4 separate regions of the Homo sapiens genome follow, and all the other regions are linked to region 4. Evidence: fine-mapped expression QTL. A gene starts in region 4. Each other region holds a variant in brackets. All regions are shown on one strand. Distances are from middle to middle. Region 1 overlaps MPZL1 (myelin protein zero like 1). Region 2 overlaps MPZL1 (myelin protein zero like 1). Region 3 overlaps MPZL1 (myelin protein zero like 1). Region 4 holds the start of MPZL1 (myelin protein zero like 1).

Region 1 (5,893 bases), 44 kb before region 4:
GGACACAGCAGGAACTACATAGTTTGCTGAATCAAACTGAGGAATAACGTCTTGGTCAAACCAGTGAGAGATGGAAATAAAACAGTGAAAAATTCACAGAAAAGACTAGAATCATTATCAATCAATATTTTTAAAGTACAAGCCATGGTGCTAAAGCTATGAGGTATACTAAAGATGTAAGACAGGCAAGTCCTCTTAAAACACCCATATTCAGGAAGAAGAGGAAAACTGTCATATTAAGGGATCTGTATTATAGGAATGGCCCAGATAAGGGTAGTGAGTTTTAAGGGCTAAAAGGTTAAAAAAAAAAAAAGAGGCATTATGGAGGAGACAGAGGGTAAAAATGGGGTACAGCTTAAATGACAAGTGTTCAGAAGTAGGAAAACAAAGCACAAAGCATTTTTACTAAACTGGAAGTGATGCCATAAGAGAACAGAAGTGAGGCTAAAGTGGTAGGCTGGGCCAAATTGTAATGAGCTTTTAATTCTAGACAAATGTTGTCCACAATGGGAATCTAGGTTCCTGATAACCTGCAGTGGCAAGGTGAAAGAGCTGTTCTAAGACTATGCACCTGCTGGCATATGAGGGTTGGATTGAAAGATGAGAAAAACAGAAGCAGAAGAATAACAAGGGGCTACTGCACAAGACCAGGCACACAGTTAACATTGCTCAATAGACAGCAGAGACACAGGAAGGCTGACAAAAAGCTAGACACCAGAAACAAAGTAGGAAGAACCAGCAAAGGTTCTTATTTCTTGGGGGCAGAAGGGAAGTGGTAAGGGACAGGGAAGGAAAGGACAGAAAACACAAAACAAAACAAAACAAAACAAAACAAAACAAAACAAAATGATTACAAAACTCATCTGCAGATGAACACAATTAACCTAAAAAAAAAAAAAAAAAAAAAAAGCAGAAAAGGGAAACAGAAGGGAGAAAAAATGAGTTCAGTTTCAGACATGTGGATCCCAAGGCCATGGGCCAAAAAAGCCATCCACAGTATGGCTTTTGAATATACTGGGTTTGAATATACTTTTCCTGTAAAACCTATAAAAACAAAAAAGCAACCCACTCATCTTATTAAATGTGTCCCGACATTTTGGAATTAAAGGATCCTATGTCAATAACTGAACATGCTGGGATTAACTGCAATCAGACTCGTGTGTAAGTATAAATTGATTAGCTAAAAATATTAATCAGAATTACAGCATGTTCTTAATATTAAGTTTTGAGTTATGTAAACCTTCATGGACCTACACGACAAGACTGTTTCCAGCATAAATGGAACCGCTCTTTAAAAGAAAGTTATTACCTCTGGGTGGCTCTCACACCCACTCTTGCAGAAGACTTCAGTGGGAAATCTTTAAATGTTTAAATAGTTCTTTGGACTCTCTTGAGTAAACTTATGTGTTTAATCTTGCCTCTATGGGAACATTAGTGTATGTTCTATGCTGATGCCATATTTACGTGAAGCAGAGAATGCCTCTTTATGTCTTTCCATGGTATCTGTATGGATTCCTGTGCTCACCCTTATGGCTACTGTAAGGGAAGGCCTCTCTTATAAAGACCTCTAGACTATGCATTCTCCATAGGGGAGATTCTCCCCCAAGGGAGCAAACACTGGCTCTTGGGTGGGAAGCTTTGAGAAAATCTTTCTCTTTTATATGTAAAACAGTTGCAGAGGATATCTACAATATTAAAATTTCATGGAAGGGGGCAGAGATTAAGAAAAATGTGAAAAGGCTCCTTTTAAAAATAAATTTTAAAAAATACTGAGAAGCACTGCCTTAGGTAATCCCTAAAACCTATGAGGCCGTAAATATTATTAGCAGATTTTTCTACCTGAGAGAGAAATAATACATAAGGGAAATCATACCGTATTGAAGTTTAAACAATTCTAACCTGTGTGGTATGGCCACAGGTGAATAACTCTTGAGTCAGTGTCTCCCATCCTCCCCACCCTGTCTTCCTCATAGAGCTGTGAAGATTAAATGGCATAGGCATATGATGGGCCCAACATCTAGGTGGTGATCAACAATGTAACTCACCATTCAGAAGAAGAATTGGGCATTCTTAAAGATAGATGACAGACTGTCCTTGCTAAACACTGACAACCTGAAACATGCAACAGTACTAAAATATGTGCCAATATATGAAGGGCATTCCACATGCTGGGAGAGCAACAGTAACAACAAATGGTGTATTTTAGTAACTCAAGAGCTAGACACTCTCCTGAGCACTTATCTTGAATAATCTTACTTTATCCTCCTAACACCCTTGTGTGGGAGGTTTTATCGTCTCCATTTTACAGACCAGAACCAAGATAGTCAGTTCATGTTTAATAACCAGCACTCCACTAGTTACTAAATAACCTTTTTTCAATGCTCTGGTGCTGTATTTCTGTTACATCCTTTATCTTACTCCAAAGTCATCTATATATCAGCCTTCCTCCTAATCATCTCTAGGTGAGAGCAAGGATTCTGTTTTAGACATTTTTGAAGGCCCTACATAACCCACTACATAGTAAGCTCCCAAATCAATATTGCTAAATCAGATGGACTATACGCTAAATTAAAAAAAGATAATCAAATCAGAAGATGCATACATATATATATAAAATTTGATAATACATAAAACAAATATCAATAAATATGGGGCAATAAAAGATGAAAAGATGCAGGATAAATCCTGATTAGAGTCAGTGTGGTCAATTAAGATCAATTTCAGAATGGGATTTGATGGTGGAGAGGAACTGATCAAAGACAAGGAAACCAGACGCATTTAAGAGATGCTGAACTTATTTTATCCTGAAGCAAAAGAAGGGCCTTGAAGTCTATAACAGATAAAAAATACACTCATTTTGGAAATGAACCATCAGAAAAA[T/G]GGATCACCAATTATACAGCAGTAAAGAAACCTGTGAGGCAGGACTAGCCAAGAGAAGTCAAGCATTCTTACCGACACAGTAGTGTCGGCCCCCTCTGGCTGGAAGCTCCAGGAGACTGAGGTCAACCCGCCAGTCGTACTAGTAGACTTGAACTTGCAGGTCAGCTTCCCTTGTGTACCATTTGCCACGAAGATTTCTTTTGGCGTATATACTTCCAAGGCTGATACTCCAGCTGTCACTGAAGAGAAAGGAATAAGGGTAGTTGAAAGTAGGACTTAACATGAATACCACTGTGCATTTTTGCCAGACAAGAAAAGATACAGCAAAGTTACTAGATATATACAGTAATTCACTGCCATTACATATTTCTGGCAGAATATTCTACAGCTAAGTTCAATCAGAATAGCACTATAAACAGAATAATTGCTGACAGTTTAGGTTTGTATTGCTTTTTAGTTAAGATATTTTTATTAGTCTGGTTATATTGAATTTTTTTTTTAAACTAATAGACTTTTTAAAGAGCAGTTTCAGGTTTACAGAAACATTGAATAGAAGGTAGAATTCTCATATTCCCTCACTCTCCCATGGCCAACCTGTTTCTCCTATTATTAACATCTGGCATTAGTGTTATACGTTTGTTTTAATTGATGAGCCAATATGGTTACATCATTGTTAACCACAGTCCATAGTTTACATTAGGATTTGTGTTAGTGTTGTAGATCTTATGGATTTTGACAAAGGTGAATAGTGACGTCTCCACCATTACAGTATCATACAGAATAGTTTCACTCCCTAAGCATCCCCTGTGCTACACCAATTTATTCCTGCCGTCCTTCCCCCCACACCCCTGGCAAACACTGACCTTATACTGTCTCTATAGGTTTGCCTTTTCTAGAATGTTATCTAGTTAAAATTATACAGCATGTAGCCTTTTAAGGTTGCCTTCTTTCACTTAGTAATATGCACTTAACTTTCTTCCGTGTCTTTTTGTGGCATAATATCTCATTTCTTTTTATTGCTGAATAATATACAAATTGTATGGATGTACCACAGTTTATTCATTCACCTACTGAAGGACTTCTTGGTGGCTTCCCTGATGGTCTATTTTTAATGAGGTGATGGGCATATTTTTATTTCTTTAAGTAGTTCTCATGCTTATCTGTTACGCAATTGTTATCACACTGAACTTTTCTCATCATCCATATGTAATGCAATTAAAACTATCCTAAGATATAACTTCATTTTAAAGCCACATTTATTATTTAACTGATCCTTTTCTTATAAAGAACTTAAGGAAGAAAAATGCATGTTTTGGTTTTGTTAGTGCAATCATACCTACCATAAGATTTCACTGTGCTAGGTAAGTAAACAGCTGATTACACCGTATATCACATTTTCATTTCACCCATCAAGTTTTGTCAGTTAGCCTAAGCCCAGGAAATAGTAATTGAAATGTGTCTACCACTTAGAATATAAAAATGGCTCTTTTTTCAAGATCTGCAATAGTAGGCAACTGCAGGAATTGTTAAGGATTGCTGTTAAAAGTATTTGCCAAATTCTTAAAGATTGCTAATTTGAACATACTGCTATAAAAGAAATGCTTTCACAGACAAAATGAAAGTCAGAAAAAAAAAACTTATTTGGCCCAAAATTGGTAACTTAAAAATACCCATCTTCCATATTTTTTAAAGAAATCGTTTGGAATAAATATCTGCAGTGTTGCAATAATTCTTAGAATGTAACAGACGGGCAGAATAAGGAAGAGTATTGTCAGCCAGGACTGATGGTCATTTTCAGAATTTTTTCTCCTTGAAGACTTAACTGACTCTCAGCCAAGGAGAACAAGAGTACTCCCCCATTCCTCCCAACCATCTTGCAAATGTTTATTCTCAGGACATAATGGGCACTTTTGGCTATTCTTTTAAATAAACTGATAGCCATACTGCATCAAGCAGATTTTTTTTTCTGCGAAAGAGGGTGGATTATTATTACAGGGAACAATAGATTATTATTTGCGGTCCAAACCTCAAAACAAGCATTTCTTTCAGAGGAGATGCAAACAAAAGAGTTCCTTGCTATTGTGGGTACGCAGAAAAGCAGCCCCAGGGCACTTGAGTTCAAAATGAAGGACAAAGCACAAGACTAGACTAGTGGACCAGCTTATTCCAGGAAGCAGCACTGGCTTGCAACCCTTATTCACTCTGTGTGATTTTGACTAGTTTTCTCCATGGTGATGAGTACTGGAAAGCCACAGTCTCTAAAAGTCTATAAATAAAGTTTCTCAAGGATTTTCTTTTCTTTCTTTCTTTTTTTTTTTTTTGAGACCGAGTCTCAATCTTGTCACTCAGGCTGGAGTGCAGTGTTGCAACCTCCGCCTCCTGGGTTCAAGCAATTCTCCTGCCTCAGCCTCCCGAGTAGCTGGGATTACAGACACCCACCACGACGCCCAGCTAATTTTTGTATTTTTAGTAGAGACGGGGTTTCACCATGTTGCCCAGGCTGGTCTCGAACTCCTGACCTCAGGTGATTCACCAGCCCCGGCCCCCCCAAAGTGCTGGGATTACAGGCGTGAGCCACCGCACCCAGCCTTCTTCAAGGATTTTCTTAAACCAGATCCCTTCCTCGAGGCCTAGCTGCAAGACTTGTCATCCCGAGACATTATTTAAAGATGGAATTAGACCAAGTGTCCAAGTTTACAGTCACAGAATTTTGAGCAAAAAGACTAACCAAATTCCCAAATGGCTTTTAGGCATCTATTTAAGACACAGATTTCATTATACCAAAGTTAGGTAATAAACAGGTGGCTTTTTAAAAAACACACAACACTCTTTGGCTAATCTGAACGTGTAGCTCTTAGCCAGGATTATGAAATCCAAAGCTAGCCCATCAGCTAGCTCAAGAAAAAGAAAATGATGCCACACACTGAGAAATTAACTTCCTCCCATCCCTGGCTATCTACACTTTTCTCTAATACTACTCTTGTCATCATTTTTGGAGATTTCATCAGTTGTA
Region 2 (5,893 bases), 57 kb before region 4:
TTAGCTATATCTCACAAATTTTGATATGTTATTTTCACTCAGTTCAAAATATTTTCTAATTTTTCTTGTGACTTCTTGTTTTACTCATGGGTTGTTCAATTTTGAAATATTTGAGACTTTCCAGGTATCTTTCTGTTGATTTCTGTTTAATTCCATTGTGGCCAGAGAACGTACTCTATATGATTCCAACCCTTTTAAATTTAATGAGAATTGTTTTATGAACCAGAATATGGTCTATATTTGGTTAATTTTCATGTGTACTTAAAAAGAGTAAGAATTCTGCGCTTGATGGAAGGAGTGTTTTATAAATGTCTATTAGCTCAAACTGGTTTCACTGTTAAGTCTTCCGCATCTTTTTTGATTTTCTGTAAACCTGTTCTACCAACTGCTGAGAAAGGAGTGTTGAAACCTCCAACTATGATTGTGAATATGTCAATTTCTCCTTTCAATTCTCTTAGTTTTACTTCACTTACTTTCAAGCTCTATTATTAGAAGTATAAATATTTAGGATTATGTCTTCTTCATGAGTAGATCACTTTGTCATCATAAAAAGTCTGTCTTTATCCCTGGTTCTATTTCTTGTTCTGAAGCCTATTCTGATATTATTACCACCCAGATTTCTCTTGATTAGTGTTAATGTAGCATATCATTTCCATCCTTTTACTGTTTAAAAAATGTGGTAAAATATATATAACATAAAAATTAGCATCTTTACCATTTTAAAGTGTACAGCTTAGTAGTGTTAAGTGCATTTACATCCTTGTGCAACCAATCTCTACGATATTTTCATCCTGCAAAAACTGAAACTGTACCAATTAAACAACTCCCTATTCTTCCTTCCCCAACAACTACCACTCTACTTTCTGTCTCTATGAACTGGACCACTGTAGGGTATGGGATATTAGTAGAATCACATAGTATGTCTTTCTGTGGCTGGCTTATTTCACTTGGCATATCTTCAAGATTCATCCATGTTGTAGCATGTGTCAGAATTTCTTTCCTTTTAAAGACAGAATAATATTCCATTGTGTATATATATACCACATTCTATTTATCCACTTGTATACTGATGGACTCTTGGGTTGCTTCTGTATTTTGGCTCTTGTGAATAATACTGCTATGAACATGGATGTACAAATATCTCTTCAAGACTCTGCTTTCAATTTCATCCTTGTATTAATATTTTTAACCTACCTGGATCTTTTTATTTAAAGTGGTTTATTGCAGACAGCATATGATTGGTTCTTGCTTTTCTATCCAATTTGTCCATCTCCACCTTTTATTGGCACACTCAGCCCATTTATAGTAATACAATCATCAGTCTGGTTGAGTTTAAATCTACCACTTCATTATTTGTGTTCTATTTGCCCCATCTACCCTTTGCTCATTTTCCCCTCCTTTCCTGCTCACTTTTGGATTAACTGAGTATTTTGAAATGATTACATTAAAGTTTCTTGTTGAAACCTCCAACTATGATTGTAAATACGTCAATTTTTCCTTCCAATTCTCTCAGTTTTACTTATTTTCAAGCTCTACTATTACAAGTATAAACATTTAGGATTATGTCTTCTTTGTAAGTAGATCGCTTTATCATCATAAAAAGTCCCTCTATCTCTGGTTCTATTTCTTGTTCTGATGCCAACGTTGATATTATTACCATCCGCATTTACCATTTTCCATGTTGTAGCATATGTCAGAATTTTGTTCTTATCAGTATTGCCATTCGGAGATAGAGCTTGTTAGCTGTATCTATCTCTTTTATTTTTTTCAGTGTTTGCTCTAGAATTTGCAGCATATATCTTTAACTTACCACAGTCTACCTTCAAATTATAATTTCATGGATAATATAAGGACCTTACAACAGTATTCTTCCATCCTTCCACCCCATCCTTTGTACTACTGTTGTCATACATTTTACTTCCACATGTTATAGCCTCATAAAATGCTGTCATTATTTTTGCTGTAAAGAGTCAATTTTTTTTTTTTTGAGATGGAGTCTCACTCTGTTGCCCAGGCTGGAGTGCAGTGGCGCGATCTTGGCTCACTGCAATGTCCGCTTCTGTGGTTTAAGCAATTCTCCTGTCTTGGCCTCCCAAGTAGCTGGGATTACAGGCGCCTGCCACCATGCCCAACTAATCTTTGTATTTTTAGGAGAGATGGGGTTTTGCCACGTTGGCCAGGCTGGTTTCGAACTCCTGACCTCAGGTGATCCACCCACCTCAGCCTCCCAAAGTGCTAGGATTACAGGCGTTGAGTCACTGCGCCCAGCAATTTTCGCTATTGCTTTCTGTGTGTTTATGTTTTTCATTAAATTTACTAAAAATTTCACTATTTCTTTACATATTTTTTTCTCTCCCTTTTTCTTCTCGGATTCTAATTAGATTGCTTGATATTGTCCGGTGGCTCACTGAAGCTCTGTTCACTTTCTTTTTTTTCTTTTTTTCTTTTTTGAGACAGAGTCTCGCTCTGTTGCCCAGGCTGGAGTACAGTGGCATGATCTCAGCTCACTGCAACCTCTGCCTCCCAGGTTCAAGTGATTTTCTTGCCTCAGCCTCCTGAGTAACTGGGACTACAGGCACGTGCCACCATGCCCAACTAATTTTTTGTATTTTTAGTAGAGATGGGTTTTCACCGTGTTAGGCTCTGTTCACTTTCACCCCGCCATCTGTCTTTCTCTTTGAGCTTCATTTTGGATAGTTTCTATTGCTATGTCTTCAAGTTGATTGACCTTTTTTTTTTGCAGTATCTAATCTGTTGTTAACACCATCCAATTTTTTTTTATTTCCAGAAGTTCCATTTTGGTCTGTTTTAGATATCTATTTCTTTCCTCATTGGGTTCAAGCTTTCCTTTACATCTTTAAGTTTACTAATAAGATTGATAATACTCATTTTAAGGTCTTTGTTTATGAATCCCATCATTTCCATCCATTCTGAATTTGTTTCTGATTGATTTCTCCTGATTTTTTATTGTAATTAATTATTAAATTATTATTTTTTTAAATCTATCCATCCATCCATCCATCCATCCATCCATCCATCCATCCATCC[T/ATCCT]TCCTTCCTTCTTTCCACCCATCTATTTATTTGAGATAGGGTCTCACTATATTGCCCAGGCTGGTCTTACACTCTTGGGCTCAAGCAATCCTCCCACTTAGGCTTTCAAGTAGCTGGGACTACAGGTACACACCACTATATCTGGCTTATGTGTTTTATTTTTTGGTTTCTTTTTATGCCTGATAGTTGTTTTTTTTTTTTTGAGATGGAGTCTCACTCTGTCACCCAGGCTGGAGTGCCAGTGGTGTGATCTCGGCTTACTGCAACCTCTGCCTCCCAGGTTCAAGTGATTCTCCTGCCTCAGCCTCCTGAGTAGCTGGGATTACAGGTGTGCACCACCACACCTGGCTAATTTTTGTATTTTTAGTAGAGATAGGGTTTCACCATGTTGGTCAAGTTGGTCTCGAACTCCTGACCTCGTGATCCACCCGCCTTGGCCTCCCTAAGTGCTGGGATTACAGGCGTGAGCCACCGCACCAGGCCATGCCTGGTAGTTTTTGATTGGTGCCAGACATTGTAAATTGTACATTGTTGGGTGATGAATTTTGTTGTAGCATAAAGCGTGTTGGATTTTGTTGTAAAATGCAACTAAATTACTTTTGGATTAGTTTGATTCTTTAAAGGCTTCCTTTTAAGCTTTGTTATGGTGGGTCCATAGCATCCTTTATTCTGGTACTAATTTAACCCATTTAGGTATGACCATTTTGAGAACCCCAACCAATACCCTGTGTATTATAAGTCTCTCTACTCTGGCTCTTAGGAACACAAACTAGTCCCTCACCTGTGTGAGCACCAGGCATTGTGCAACCTACTGCATTTCAGGTAGTTCTTCCCCTGGTTTCAGAGAGTGTTCTCCTATGTGTATACAACTCTGTAATCAGACAAAGACTCAAGGGGACCCCGCTCCAAATCTCTGAAGTGCTCGTGCTCATCCTAGCACGCTCTCTCTATGGTTCCTTCTTTGGTACTCAGCCTCATAAATCTTAGCCTCCTTGACCTCCCCAAATTCTGATTTCCGCCTTCTCAATTGAGTGAGACAGCTGGGCCCAGTTTCCATTTTCCCCACCTACACTGCAGTGTGGAAACTGCTTCAAGGCAGTACACTGGGGCAATAACACGGCTCACATTGTCTGTTTCCTTTCTTTTGGGGATGACAGTGCTGCATAATTTGTGTTCCACTGTCTTGAAAACCACAGTTTCTTTTTCTTTTTTCTGGTTTGTTTTCAGCAAAAAAGCAACTTCCATAGTGCTTCAAGGGCGGAATAAAAATGTTCCAATGCTTTTTTAGATGCTATGCCTATGTGTATGTAACTTTCATGTCTTCATTTACAACCATATTCCTGTTCACAACCCAAATTAGTAGACTGAGGTATCTGACATATATTATGTAATGTGAGAGAGAGACAGACAGATAGAACAGGAACAAGTAATGAGCCTGATGCTGTGGTAGAGAACATGCTATCTAGACACCTGGGTTCTAGCCCCAGTTCTGTCACTAACTGGGTGTGTGCTTTTAGTAATTTAACATCACAATGCCTTAGTTTCCTCACCACATATAACAACTATGGAATAAGACTATGGGTACTTTTCCCACAAAACACTGTTACTCTCTTTATTTCCTCTTAAATCCATTCCCACCAGCTAACACCTTTTTAGGACAAAGCTATAACTGGCCAAATTCTTTAGCATGCTTTCTACCCCAGAAAAATCAAACTGAACTAAGCTATGGAATTTTTGCCAAGCCACAGTTATAATTAAAATACTACAGCCAAAACACACAAAGCTAGATTATATGCTAACTTCCAAATAAAACCTGTTTCTCTTCTGTACTTTCTACAAGTAGAAACCAAAACCATTCCTTGTTCATCAAGCCTATTAATTATTCAGATAAATGCTTACTTTCCATTTTTTCTAAAGAATCCACAGAAAATAATTTTGGTTTTATTATCAATACTAAGAATACCAACTTTTCCTTGCTAATTTCTTATCTTAGAGTACCTCAATACAGAAAGAATCTCCTTCATTAGATTCATTTCCTTGGGCAATTAAAGAATCTTTTACTGACAAAGCCATTTCCTAATTCTGCTTGAGGCAAGGAAGCTACATGGTTAGTAAACAATTTATGTTATTGGTGGTTTCATGGAAATCTTTACTCAAGCAGATTCTTCACCACATATTTTCCTGTGGTCTTCCTAGGCCAGCCCTTTAATTCCTCACTCCCACTCTCTCTTTGTCTCTGTCTGTCTGTCTCTGTCTCTGTCTCTCATAGCTCAGTATTCTTTTCCACACCCAAGGAAGTGACAGAGCACCAAGCTGTAGGGAACAGTGCAGTGGGCAGAATCGCAATCAGCCATTACCTGGTGAGATCCAGAAGGCAGACTCTTTACAAGACCCTCAGTGTCGGAGGGGGACTTCCGAGGAGCCTGCTTAACTGGTGACAAACTCTCTGATGTACTGCAGCTGATGAATTGGCAATTTGAAGAACAAATGTAAAAAATAATAATAATAAATAAATAGAAACAAAAATATAGAAATGCAACTGACGGCAAGATGAAGCAACAGATATATAAAAACAAAAGACAACATAACAATGGGTGTCAAAATGATCACATGTTTTTAAACTATTTTCTATACCTGACACTCACTCATTCTTCTAAGTCAATGAACTCATCACTGGGGGAGGCACAGAAACAAATATGGTACAACCTCTTCAACCCAGTTTACAAAAATCATATTGGAATTCTAGTTACAATACACATTTATCCTTTTGCTGTTTGTCTTTTCCCCCTGCCATCAACCCTCCTTTGGGATAAAGGTTTAAGGGAACAAGCTCTATGGTACCTTT
Region 3 (5,893 bases), 64 kb before region 4:
GCTATTATGAATCCAGAAATTGATATGACACATTTCAAGGGTGCAAACTTAAAGTAAGTCTACACAACATGTAAGGCTAACAATTGCCCCATATTTTAGTGAGAAAAACTTCAAAAAAACTTCTCAAATTGTTTTCAAGTGGCATAGCCAATGGGTATTTTTTAAAAGCGGCAGACAAATAAATGGTACTGATACTGTGCTAAAGGCCACCCTGGGTATGCTTCCATCATAGCATCTCCATCCTCCAACTACAGTAAATGCTAAGACTAATCAGTCTTAAGCCCTTAGATTAAAAGGCCATGTCTACTGGAAATACTACAGGATCTGCTATTGTCTCCATTAAGGCAAACCATTTCTAAATGATGGTGAAAGGAATGTTTCTGAAATCTCCCAATTGTAAATGACCTGAAAAGAAAGTACAAAAACAGCAAGACAATGGGTACATATGTAGAATCATACCATCTTTTCATCATGCAACACTGGCTCCTCATATCAGGATGACTAAATAGAATATTTATACATATCCTTTGTACACATCTTTCTCTCCCTCTGTGAGTACACGTGTACTTGTCCTTGCCTGGGTCTCCAAGGCTACATGTGGTAATGGGCTACATTTTCTGCACGAGAGTCCAGTTTGGTTTTGTTTCTTGCTGAGGATATGTTCTAGGTATTCTCTTAATTCTTTCGGATATCCGCATACACCACAGACTCTGACTTGTTAATCTTGTCACTGTGATGTCCGCCGGAGTGGTCTAACTGTGCATATATGACTGGGCCCTGGAAAAGGGAAGCAGAAGGATTAGAGGACTGAAAACGCTGGCGGTTCCTTCAGCTACAGGCATAGAAGCAATGATTAACGTGATCACATCAGGGTTCCAAAGCAAAGACTTCCCTCTTGAATGTCTTCAGGAAGACTTCTTATGGATGATACATCCAGGACTGACTTTGAAACAAGATTGGACATACGTTGACAATAGTTAAAGCAAGTACATGGGGCTTTGTTACATTATTCTTTCAAACCTTTTTGATGTTTGAAAATTTCTGTAATAATATATTCCTTCTTAGGAATATCTCTTATCTTAATAGCTATCACAGAATTCCTCAGCTCTTACAATTGGGGTAAGAGTCTTAAGGACTAAGATGGGAACTTCCACGCACCTGAGACCCACAGAAATCATGAGCTTCAGAATAATCAATCCATGCAAGAAACCAACATATTTGGTGCCACCCAAAGATACAATCAATTTGATCTGGTCACGTTATACAAATAGGTATAGTTTTAAACAAATAGTTTAAAAGCACTTCAAATATTCTTCAATACAACTACTTACAGCATAATTCTTTTAGTCTGAGCGTATTGTGACCAATACAAATATTGCTTCCTTGATTTTTAATATCAGATAACTGTTCTTCCTGTTTTAAAATAAAATTAAAAAGAAAAAACAAAAAGCCACAATCTACACAGATATAAAGAAAAACCCTAAATGGAGTAAAGTAGAAAAGATCCTCTTCTCAGCCTCAGCAGTAAGGAAGAGGTTACAATTCCAGGGAATTGTCAGGGTCCCATTCAGGAGAGCAAGGGAAGGTTGGGTGGCCTGGGGGCAGAGCGAATTCCCTAACTGTTGGGGGAAGAGGTCAGATAGGTGGCTGCATTTCATGACTCTTTCAGTCTAGACTCTTAAAATTGTAAACAACAACAAAATAGCCCTGGTTTTAAAAGAAAGATTTAATATTACCCAATGTCAACTTTTCTCCCAATCTAGGGGAACTCTCCTTGAGAAGTCTAATAACGTGCTTAAGCTTTCACCTTTGAAATCATAAGCTCAATAGCCAAAAGCACGTGGTTTAAAATAAACACACTTACCCTCATCCAGGAGCCCTAACAACCTGTGTCCTTAGTGTGTAACCTGGGGTTCTGTGGAGTTCAGCTACTCCCACATCTACAGAAGGGACAGGCCCAGTTGTAAGGGCTATACAATGGTGCATCTAAAAGCGGAGTTAGAAAATAACACTCGAGGACTAGAGCCATTTGAATGTTGGCAGATCTGCAGTCTGAATTATGATATCGTCTTTGTTGAACCTTAGAGAAGAGCACTGGTCACGTGGCCCTGGGCACATTTGTAAATTTCTAAGCACAAGTTTCTTCATCTCTAAAATGGTACTACTAATAATATCTACATTTTTGTTTTTTGTTGTTATGAAAATTAAATAAGATGATACCTATAACTTAGGCAGTGTCTCACAGACAGTACTTAATACATGTTAGTTATTATTATGAACGTCTTGTTACACAAACATACTTTAAAATGCACTGAGGTAACTGGTCAAGTAAATTAAATAGTCAAACTCTGTGTGTTTATCTTTAGTCTATAATGGCTGTCATAGGAAATATTAACAGATCACATGGTTAATAATCATACAGACCCTCTATATTCATCTCAGAAAGCTACAAGTTAAATGCTAACCCCACCAAAAAACAAAAGGAAGTTAAAAAGACTGTTTTCGGCCGGGTGTGGTGGCTCACGCCTGTAATCCCAGCACTTTGGGAGGCCGAGGCGGGCGGATCATGAGGTCAGGAGATCGAGACCATCCTTGCTAACACGGTGAAACCCCGTCTCTACTAAAAATACAAAAAAATTCGCCGGGCATGGTGGTGGGCGCCTGGAGTCCCAGCTACTCAGGAGGCTGAGGCAGGAGAATGGTGTGAACCCAGGAGGCGGAGCTTACAGTGAGCCAAGATAGCGCCACTGCACTTCAGCCCGGGTGACAAAGCGAGACTCCGTCTCAAAAAAACAAAAAAAAGACTGTTTTCTACTAGGAACAGAATTAAACTAACTGTTCCCTGGTAACAGCTATTTCCAAGAATAGGACGGAACTCCCAACATTAAATTATATAAATTCTTAGATAATAAAACCCCATATCATAATTCCTAAAAACTCACTAAGAGTTTTAGGGTATGTTCATGGGAGAAGGGGTTTACAATGTGTGACTGACTGCACAAATGGCTACAAACTCTTTCCTTCTCTGCATCTTACTCTTTGCAACATAATGCTGTAGGTCCTTCCAATCAAGAGTAGAAATCTGTTTCTCTACCCCTTGAATCTGGGCTGATCTTGTGATCAGCTCTGACTAACAGAATGAGGCAGCAGTGATGCTGTGCAGTTTCCACACCCAGACCTCAACAGACCTTGCCACTTCCACTCTCACTGATCTTGGGACCCACACAGCCACCAC[T/G]ACCATGTGAAGAAGCCAAAGTCAGCCTGATGGCTGATGAGAGATGCATGGCCCAGCTGTCCTCTGTCTGCCTGGCCAACAGCCTGCCAATGGTTAGACTGTAAGTGAGACCACTGTAGACTGTCCAGCTACCAGTCAACCTTCTAGCCAACTGCAGATGCACAAGTGAGCCAGCAGAGATCAGCTGAGCTCATCCAGACCAGAATCTGCTCGACCAATCCACAGAATGGGGAGCCAAATAAATAGTGCGTGTTTTAAGCCACTATATTTTGGGGGGTTTGTTACGTAGCAGTAGATAATTGATATATTATGTGAGTAGAAAAGAATGAGAACAGAGAAAGTAAAGAGGAAAAAGAACACAGAATTATCTTTTAGTCTGTAAATGTTAAAATATCAATGAGGTCTTTCATGTGAGACAGTACTGTCTTTCATGTCAAAAGAATACAACTATCTCATGAAAGTAAATGGGAAAACACTGAAGAAATCCCTTCCTGCTGATGGACTTGGTATTCTTCAAACTGTTTACCACTGCCTGATGTTATCCTCATTCCTCTTCCCCCTTAGAATATAATAAGGTCTTAAGTCAGGGACTTTGTTAACTTCCTAGAACTTGGCAGAACACAGGTGCTGGATGAAGGGATGGATGAAAGAAAGGATGCAGAGAAACTGCAGATGTAGGTTGAGATTGGGGTCTGCTGACAGATCTAGCTCAATCTAGAACACCTCTATGAAGTTTGATTCTGAGTGCTATTTAGAGGTGGAAGGAGCCCTGAGTCTCTATGGAACATGCCTCAGCACCTCGATTTTGAGGGCAAATGAGGCTGCTCAGGACTTCAAGAGGATCCACAGAACCACGATCAACTTTGAAATGAACCTACCATTGTTAAGACATTCACTTTTGGGTATAATAAAGAAGGAAAACAACAACAAAACCTACATTAACCTAGCTGTTTTACTCTATCTCTTGGTACTCACCCTCCCCACCCTCCATTTCATTTATTTATTTATCTTTGCTTTTACACAAAGAATTACAACAATAAAGTGAAAAATTGGTCTGAGTATGTTTTCAGCTACTTTCTGCATGAATAGGCCTTAGCTATTGAAAATGTTTCAAGAAACACATTGCTTAATATAGGCCTATTATTTTAGTTACAACTAGAGATAAAATTACCTCTGAAGTTTACTTGTACCAAAATTAATTATTTATTCCAATAAAAAAACCATAACTGGTGAAGGTTGGGGGAGAAGGTCCAGGAAGAAAGGATTCTAGAAAAGCAAAGAGACCTGCTTCTAACTACAAATTAACTGCTCAGGAGTCATTATGTTGTGTCCTGTAGTACACCTTTCACAGTCTCTGTAGCCTGTAGCCCTATTTAATTTGATTCTAGTCCTTCAGGTGTTAGAGGAGTCATCCCCAAAAGCCTAGCACGAATCACTAAGAAAGAACATCTATTTTTACCATGTGCTCATTGACTACTGACAGAACACCTTTTTTTTTAGTATTTATTCCACTGTTTTTTAAGTAAAATATAAATATGAAACACAGCTATGTATTATGACTTTCTTTGAGATAAATGAGACAAATACTGATTATCAAAGCAGAGGTGAAAAAAATTGGACAGGATAAAATATACATGTGCCTTAGAACCAGACAGATCTGGCTCAGCCACTAACTACTGACCTTGAGCAAGTGACTTGCCTAACTAAGCCTCAGTTTCTTCATGTGTAAAATAGAGACAACAGAAGAACTTACCCTGGAGGACTGTTGTGAGGACTAAAGGAAAAACGCACATAACTACTTCTTGAAACATTACCCTGTCTATGCTATGCACTATAGTTGACAAATACATAAATATTCCATTCAATCACTGTTTAACAACATAACCCAAAAACCTACCTTTTGCATACAGAGCATCAACGATATCCAGAAAAGGATCTAGAAAACCAACTACTCCTCAAATACATATACAAAAATTACTTTATACCAATCTCATTCAAAACTAAGCTTCACAAAGAAAAAAAATTTTCTTATTTTTTTCCACAGTGCCTTAACACTCTAAACTCTAGGTAGTGCCTATCTAACACCTTCCCAACCCAGCCTCCCACTCCACTTGGCTGGAAGAGCCCCAGTTTGGTTCTGGTCTTTACTCTCCCTTTGCTCAGGTAGATGACCCTACCTTCCTCTGCCCTAAGAGTGAATCAGAATGGCATCAGCTTCTAAGCCACAATGCTGGAAGCCAGAACAATCAGCAATGACTCAAAATGCTGAAGGAAAATGATTTCCAACTGGGAATCCTACCCCACCAGATTCGCAATCAAGTTTGAGGGAGGAGAATAAAGACAATTTTAAAGGTGTTAAAAACATATTAATTATCTCACAGTTTTACAGGTCAGAAGTCTGAAATGTGTTTCACTGTGCTAAGATCAAGGTGTCAATAGGACTGCGTGCCTTCCACAGGTTCTAGGAGAGAATCTGTCTCCTTGCTTTTTCCAGCTTCTGGAAGCTGCCTGTATTTCTTGGCTATGAGTTCTTCATCTTTAAAGTCAGCAGTATAGCATCTTCCAGTCTCTCCCCGATGCTTACCCTTCTGCCTCCCTCTTCTAAGGACCTTTATGGTTACAATGGAGCCACCCAGATAACCCAAGACAATCTCCCTA
Region 4 (5,893 bases):
CCAAGCTCTATCAAACGTACTTTCTAAGTGGCGCATCAACATGTGTCCTCTCTTCATAGCCCAATGCTTGAATTCAGATCTTCATCATCCTCCCCGGGATTATTACAATAGTCCTCTGCCTTCTCTGGCTTCAGCCTCACCCCACTCTAACCCATCCTTCACATCTCAATAGACAGAGAAATCCTCATTGGATTAAGTGTGGCAGACAAGGCCCTTTGTAAGCTGGTGCCCTTGGCAGGCTCTCCTGCCTCAACTCCCACCATTCCCCTTATATACACTCCAACCTCCCACTATACTGAACTACCAACAGGTTCATTCATAACTCTGTATGTACTTCTGCCCCTCCCCCATGCCTACCCAGTTTAAACTCCCTTCCTCCAGTAGCCTGAACTACAGTCTGAGATAATGACCCTCCTTCAAGCTCCCACAGTACATCTTTACCAATGTGCTTCTGACCCTACACAGTGGCACACACCTGTAGCCCCAGCTGCTTGCGAGGAAAAGGCAGAGGAATCACTGGAGCCCAGGAGTTTCAGTTCCAGAGCAGCCTGGGCAACACAGTGAGACCTAACCTCCCACCTTTTAAGTGTTAAGCACTTAAAAGGTGCTCAGTGAATGTTTGCTGAGTAACTGTCTTGATAAAACTTTAGAAGCTATCCTGTAAAAGATAAACTCTTATGTGCAGTATCCATGACCAGAAAAGAGGTGATTTGGCAAGAATTTTAGATTCAATAATTTTCTAAGTTGAACCAATAACATCAGCTGCTGATTTTTACATATCAACATTCATCTTCATTACTGAAGAGTTACGTCCAAGTTGTATGGGGCTATTACTCTAGTGATCTTTTCACTACTATGTAGTTTTGCACTCCTTCTACGTTTAATACCCTGATTTTAATTAAGATCACCCTAACTGCTTTGTCCTCCATAGCAATGTCTGACCTCTCATGCATAACAATTCTGTCTGAAGCATATTTCTGATAAACCTTAATTTTAGGCTATTTTCTACTTGTTTGATTAAACACAAATACCACCACCAACAAACACACTTTTAACCTTTTTTTCTAAGACAAAATACAGAATGGATTGTGTCTTACACAAAGTGTGTCATCATCTGTCAACCCCTGGAGGGTAGGGAGACTTTTACATTTATGCTTTACAGCCCCTGGAATCACTGTTTAAGTGGAACAGTTGGTGATCCAACAGAACTTCACCTAGTTTCCCTGATCCAAGGATTATATTAAGAACTTTTCCATGAAGAAAGAAATTACTGAGTAAACTCTGGTATTCAGATACTGTGATGCTAAATCATAACTGACATTTTGAAAACAAAGGGAATGAAAAAAATCTACGTGGTTTCTTAGCAGCTGGCCCTCTTTATAACTATTATTTAACTAAATTCGGAGACAGCAACAAGTACTTTGCTTTGAACAACAACACAGAAAAGTCCTGTGGCAGATACCACTTCAGATGTCCATAAAACAAGTCATCCAATTCCCATAAATTGAGCCCGAGGTTTACCTTAAGCTTGAGTCACAATATTTGGTAAGAAAAAGGAGCTTTTTTTTTCCTTTAGGAAAATTATGCTTTTTAATGCTCTATGTCTTGTCAAATTATGGTGGCTACGTCTGGAATTATGATGGATTTGACCAAATTCTTTTAAGCCAGGCCATCTCACTGGTATTCCAAGCTCTTTGCATTCTAACCTAGAAGTAACAATATTTTTTTATTGGCGTTTTGCAGACCACGGAAATGAGACTCTTTTATTACGGAGACTTAAAACTGAATGAGAGCATGGGAAAGGGAACTTACAACAAAACCCTGGCTTAACAGGAAACAAATCAACAAAGGCCCTACAAATGAAAAACCTGCAACTTTCCGCCACCTCCCAAAGGTGAAGAACGCCAGAACCCTAGTTCCTGAGTCAGAATCCGGGAGGGCCTAGACGATCCAGAGTCACCACGAGGAGAGGGCAGGGTGCGCCGCGAGGGCTCACCGCAGCCGCCCGCCGGGTCCGCTCCCCTGGACCGCCCCCCGGGAAGGAGCAAGGTAAAGCACTCTCCCCTCCTCCTCCGCACTCCAGGATCCAGGAAAGAGAAGAAAGAGGCTCTGCGCCTTCCCGGCCAGTCGCGGAGGCCCGCGTTCCCCATGGGCTGGGTCCCCTCGGCCCCAGAGAGCGCAGGCCGCGCCCCCTCCCCACCTCGGCTCTCAGTGCGCGCGCCTGGCCTGCGACCGCCGCGATGGGCGTGTGTCGGGCCCGGGGGCCCCACTCCCCGGCCCCAGCCCTGGTCCTGGCATCACTTACAGAGCCCAAGCGCCGCCGCCAGCACCGACCACAGCCAGCGCCGGCTGTCTGGGGCTGCAATCACCGCCCCGGCTCCGGCGGACGCTGCCATCGTCCAGCCACTGCAGTCGCCGCCGCCGCCGCCGCGTCCCTGAGCCCGGGTCCCCGCTGAGGTTGGCTCGGCTTGGGGAAGAGGCTTCTGATCTCTCCGCCACCCGCGCCGGGTGGCACCTCCACGCCGCGCTCCCCACTCCGGTCCCAGCCGCGGCTCTCCAGCTCTGCACCGAAGCCTCAGCCCCACTCCGGCCCTCGCTGTCCGCTCATTGGCCTGCCCGCACCCTTTTAAGGACGCGATTGGAGAGTCAGGCTGTCCATCATCCGTCCGCCGGGAAGGCCCCGCCTCCTCGGTCCCACCCAGGCGCCTCGGCCCCGCGCGGAGGCCGGGTCTGCAGCGGTCCCAGGCCGAGCCGAGCCTTCCGCCTGCCTGCGTGGCTGTCCGCCTGCGGGCCCCACCAGCCAGCGTCTCCTCTGCCTTTCTCAGGGTCCAGTCCCGTGGTCCTCTTCATTGTCTCTCCTCGCCACAGGTCTTTGCTGGGTACTAACCTCGCCTCCGTTTCAGCTCTTCTTGTTCTCTGCCGGCCTCACCTAACGAAAAAGAAGCAATTCATTTACCTTAAAAAGAAAGAAAAGACAGAAAGAAAAATAATGAGGCGTTCAATTGATGGGGGAGAGACTTCTGATTCAGTCGTCCAGGTGGAACACGTTCCCCGTGCCGTGTCCCCAAGGCCTGTCCTTTGCGTGGACTAGATAATGTATGTGTTGCAATTTGCGAAATCTACTAGTTTAAAAAGAAGTCTCCATCTTGCCCTAACCTCCTCTTAGGAACCTCCCTCCTGGCTTCAGAAGGATGGGAATCTGGAACTCTTTCCTACTACCTGAAAAACAAATGAAAATGCTTTTTGATTGTTTTGCTTTCGCATATCTGTGTTCCTGTCTGTGTCCGTGAAAAATAGAAAGCAGAAGTTCCCAACACTGATTCTGAAGTGCCCTGCAGAAGTTCCCGACACTGATTGCTGGCCCTGCTCAACTTGGTTGCCTTGGCCCAGAACAGTCTGCCACCTACGGGTTGTCCAATCAATAGGGGAAATATTTGGAAGGATCCTTATGAAAATGGCTTACAAAAGGGAAAAATGGGGGACAGGGGCACAAGAAAGATGAGTGTGAAGGAGGAAAAGGGAAGATTCAGGTGGGAGGCTGATACGATGAGGAAGGGAAGCAAGCTTTAGACAATTAGGACAAGAGCGGGGGAAGAGTATGGTGAGAACCCAAAATGTAACCTCTCACTTCAGGGTTTTTGTCTAAGGTCAGTCTTAACAATGCCATTCCTGATATCTGTGCTGTTTCAGCTAACATTGCAGTACAGCGAAATCATAAGAACATTAGTGAGAAAAAAACTTAAAAAAAAAAAATACCAGAACCACTTTGCCCTATTTCTGTCAGCAGATCCTTTTGAAGTTGTATCTCAAATGCCATAGGTTGGAAAAGATACCAATGCATTAATTGAACCATGGATGTAGAACACCTGGGCTTTACTCTCAAGAAGCACATCGTCTACTAGTGTACACAAACAAGTACTCAATTACATTTGTAAAAATGAGGGCCGGGTGCGGTGGCTCACACTTGTAATCCCAGCACTTCGGGAGGCCGAGGCGGGCAGATCACGAGGTCAGGAGTTTGAGACCAGCCTGGCCAGCGTAGTGAAACCCCATCTCTACTAAAAGATACAAAAAAATTAGCCGGGCATGGGTGGCGCGTGACTGTACCCAGCTACTCGGGTGGCTGAGGCAGGAGAATCGCTTGAACTGAGAGAAGAGAGACAGAACCTCTCATATAGTTTTATACTCAGAAAAGGAAAGAGAAGCGAAATTAAAGGCAGGTAACCCGGCGCCTAAGAACCAGACCCGAAACCAGGCCTGGGCCTGCCTGACCTAAGCCCGGTAGTTAAAGATCGACCCCTGACCTAACCGGTTATGTTATCTATGGATTCCAGACATTATATGGAAAGGCATTGTAAAAATCCCTGTCCTGTTCTGTTTCGTTCTGATTACCGGTGCATGCAGCCCCCATTCACAGTACCCTCTGCTTGCTCAATTGATCATGACCCTCTCACGCGGACCCCCTTAGAGTTGTGAGCCCTTAAAAGGGACAGGAATTGCTCACTCGGGGAGCTAGGCTCTTGAGACAGGAGGCTTGCCGATACTTCCGGCCGAATAAACCCCTTCCTTCTTTAACTCCGTGTCTGAGGAGTTTTGTCTGCGGCTCATCCTGCTACAGAACCTGGGAGGCAGAGGTTGCAGTGAGACGAGATCACGCGCCATTGCACTCCAGCCTGGGCGACAGGGCGAGACTCCGTCTCAAAAAAAGGAAGAGTGAATAAAGAAGAAACCCAAGGCCAGCAGGGACAGTGACTCTCAGCAGTGTTTAAAGCTTCTCTGCTGATTGTGATGTACCTCAGCCACATATACCTCGCTCTCCTAAAATCCACTGGCCCAAGAAGCATCTAGAAAGATTCACCAAGGATAAAACATTTAAGGTGAACTTTAAAAGATGAATAATTCACCAGAGAGAAAACAGGAAAAGCAAACTCAGAGAACGGAGAAAACAGGAAAAGCACATTCAGAGAAAAGAAATCACCTACCAAGTGTGAGAAACATTAGGTGAATCCTTTGTGGTTTGCAACTTGAGGGGAGTGAGGGAAAGAGGGGAAGAGAGAATGCCAGGAAAGGAGGCTGCGGTCATATTTTGAAGAGCCTTGAGTTGTGTTTTTTCTGGAGGCAGTGGAGAGTGGTGAAAGGGGTGTAAGAAGTTCGGATCTGTGTTTTAAAAAGGTAACCACTGCAGCAGGGCAAGAATGAAGAGAGCAGGAAATAAGGTATTGATAGTGGGGATGAGAAGACAGGATTTGAGAGACATTTCACGAAAAGAATTACAGGACTGGGTATAAATTGGATGAGAAGTATAATCAAGAGAAAAAGAGTCCCAATTTCTAGCCTGTCTGTCTTTGTCTTCAAGATCTGTTGCCAGAGGAAAATTGGAATGTGGGTGGTGTCCCAGGAACCCTGAGAATTTGACTCCTCGCAGATAACAAATCAGATAGATTCAAAGAGGAATCCCAGGCCACCTTGAGAAAGATTCGCCTGAAGCCAAATCAGTTTCACAAAGAATGTCTTAATCCAGAAGCATTGCTGCTAGAAATTTTTGAAAATTGGAAAATTAGAGTTCTAGTGTCTCCTTCCCCTTGGCACAGAGACACCAAATTGGGGGAACGAGGGTAAAAGGGTCCTTAGGGAGGTGTTAATTCTTACAGGAGAAGGCTGTGCTGTCAGACTTCTAAATTCACTGTAGCTGGGATAAAATTTTCCTCAAGATACACTGTTTTCCTGGGCCCTGCAACCATCTGTGTACTACATCTGCTTCCCAAGGACCTAATTCTAGGGAAGCATGTGCCTGGACAGATAGCGCAGGCATTCCTCCTACCAAATAGGGATATTTCCCACTGTCAATGAAGCAATCAATATTCTGAGTTTTGTTATTGTCAGTCTTTCTGCA

What was found. PIP is the estimated chance that this variant, and not a neighbour inherited with it, causes the effect. A credible set is the group of variants that fine-mapping cannot tell apart.
Region 1: its variant is the best candidate, but not a certain one, in a credible set for the expression of MPZL1 in whole blood (TOPMed, PIP 0.83).
Region 2: its variant is the best candidate, but not a certain one, in a credible set for the expression of MPZL1 in monocytes after LPS (Fairfax 2014, PIP 0.57).
Region 3: its variant is the best candidate, but not a certain one, in a credible set for the expression of MPZL1 in whole blood (TOPMed, PIP 0.69).

Annotation. Positions count from the first base shown.
Region 1 is chr1:167,762,809-167,768,701 of GRCh38, reverse strand. It overlaps MPZL1 (myelin protein zero like 1), which reads right to left. Exons shown (of 6, transcript NM_003953.6): 2 at 2,953-3,119. Among named protein-coding and RNA genes, the nearest start is that of MPZL1, 44 kb to the right of the region's middle. The variant T/G (reference allele first, on the strand shown) is at 2,881.
Region 2 is chr1:167,775,679-167,781,571 of GRCh38, reverse strand. MPZL1 (myelin protein zero like 1) reads right to left here. Exons shown (of 6, transcript NM_003953.6): 5 at 5,406-5,508. Among named protein-coding and RNA genes, the nearest start is that of MPZL1, 57 kb to the right of the region's middle. The variant T/ATCCT (reference allele first, on the strand shown) is at 3,049.
Region 3 is chr1:167,782,704-167,788,596 of GRCh38, reverse strand. It overlaps MPZL1 (myelin protein zero like 1), which reads right to left. Exons shown (of 6, transcript NM_003953.6): 6 at 1-777. The coding sequence ends at 676. Among named protein-coding and RNA genes, the nearest start is that of MPZL1, 64 kb to the right of the region's middle. The variant T/G (reference allele first, on the strand shown) is at 3,236.
Region 4 is chr1:167,718,655-167,724,547 of GRCh38, reverse strand. It overlaps MPZL1 (myelin protein zero like 1), which reads right to left and starts at 2,566. Exons shown (of 6, transcript NM_003953.6): 1 at 2,306-2,566. The coding sequence starts at 2,396. RefSeq lists silencers at 1,927-2,066, 2,097-2,166, 2,557-2,926 and enhancers at 1,738-2,238, 4,465-4,964.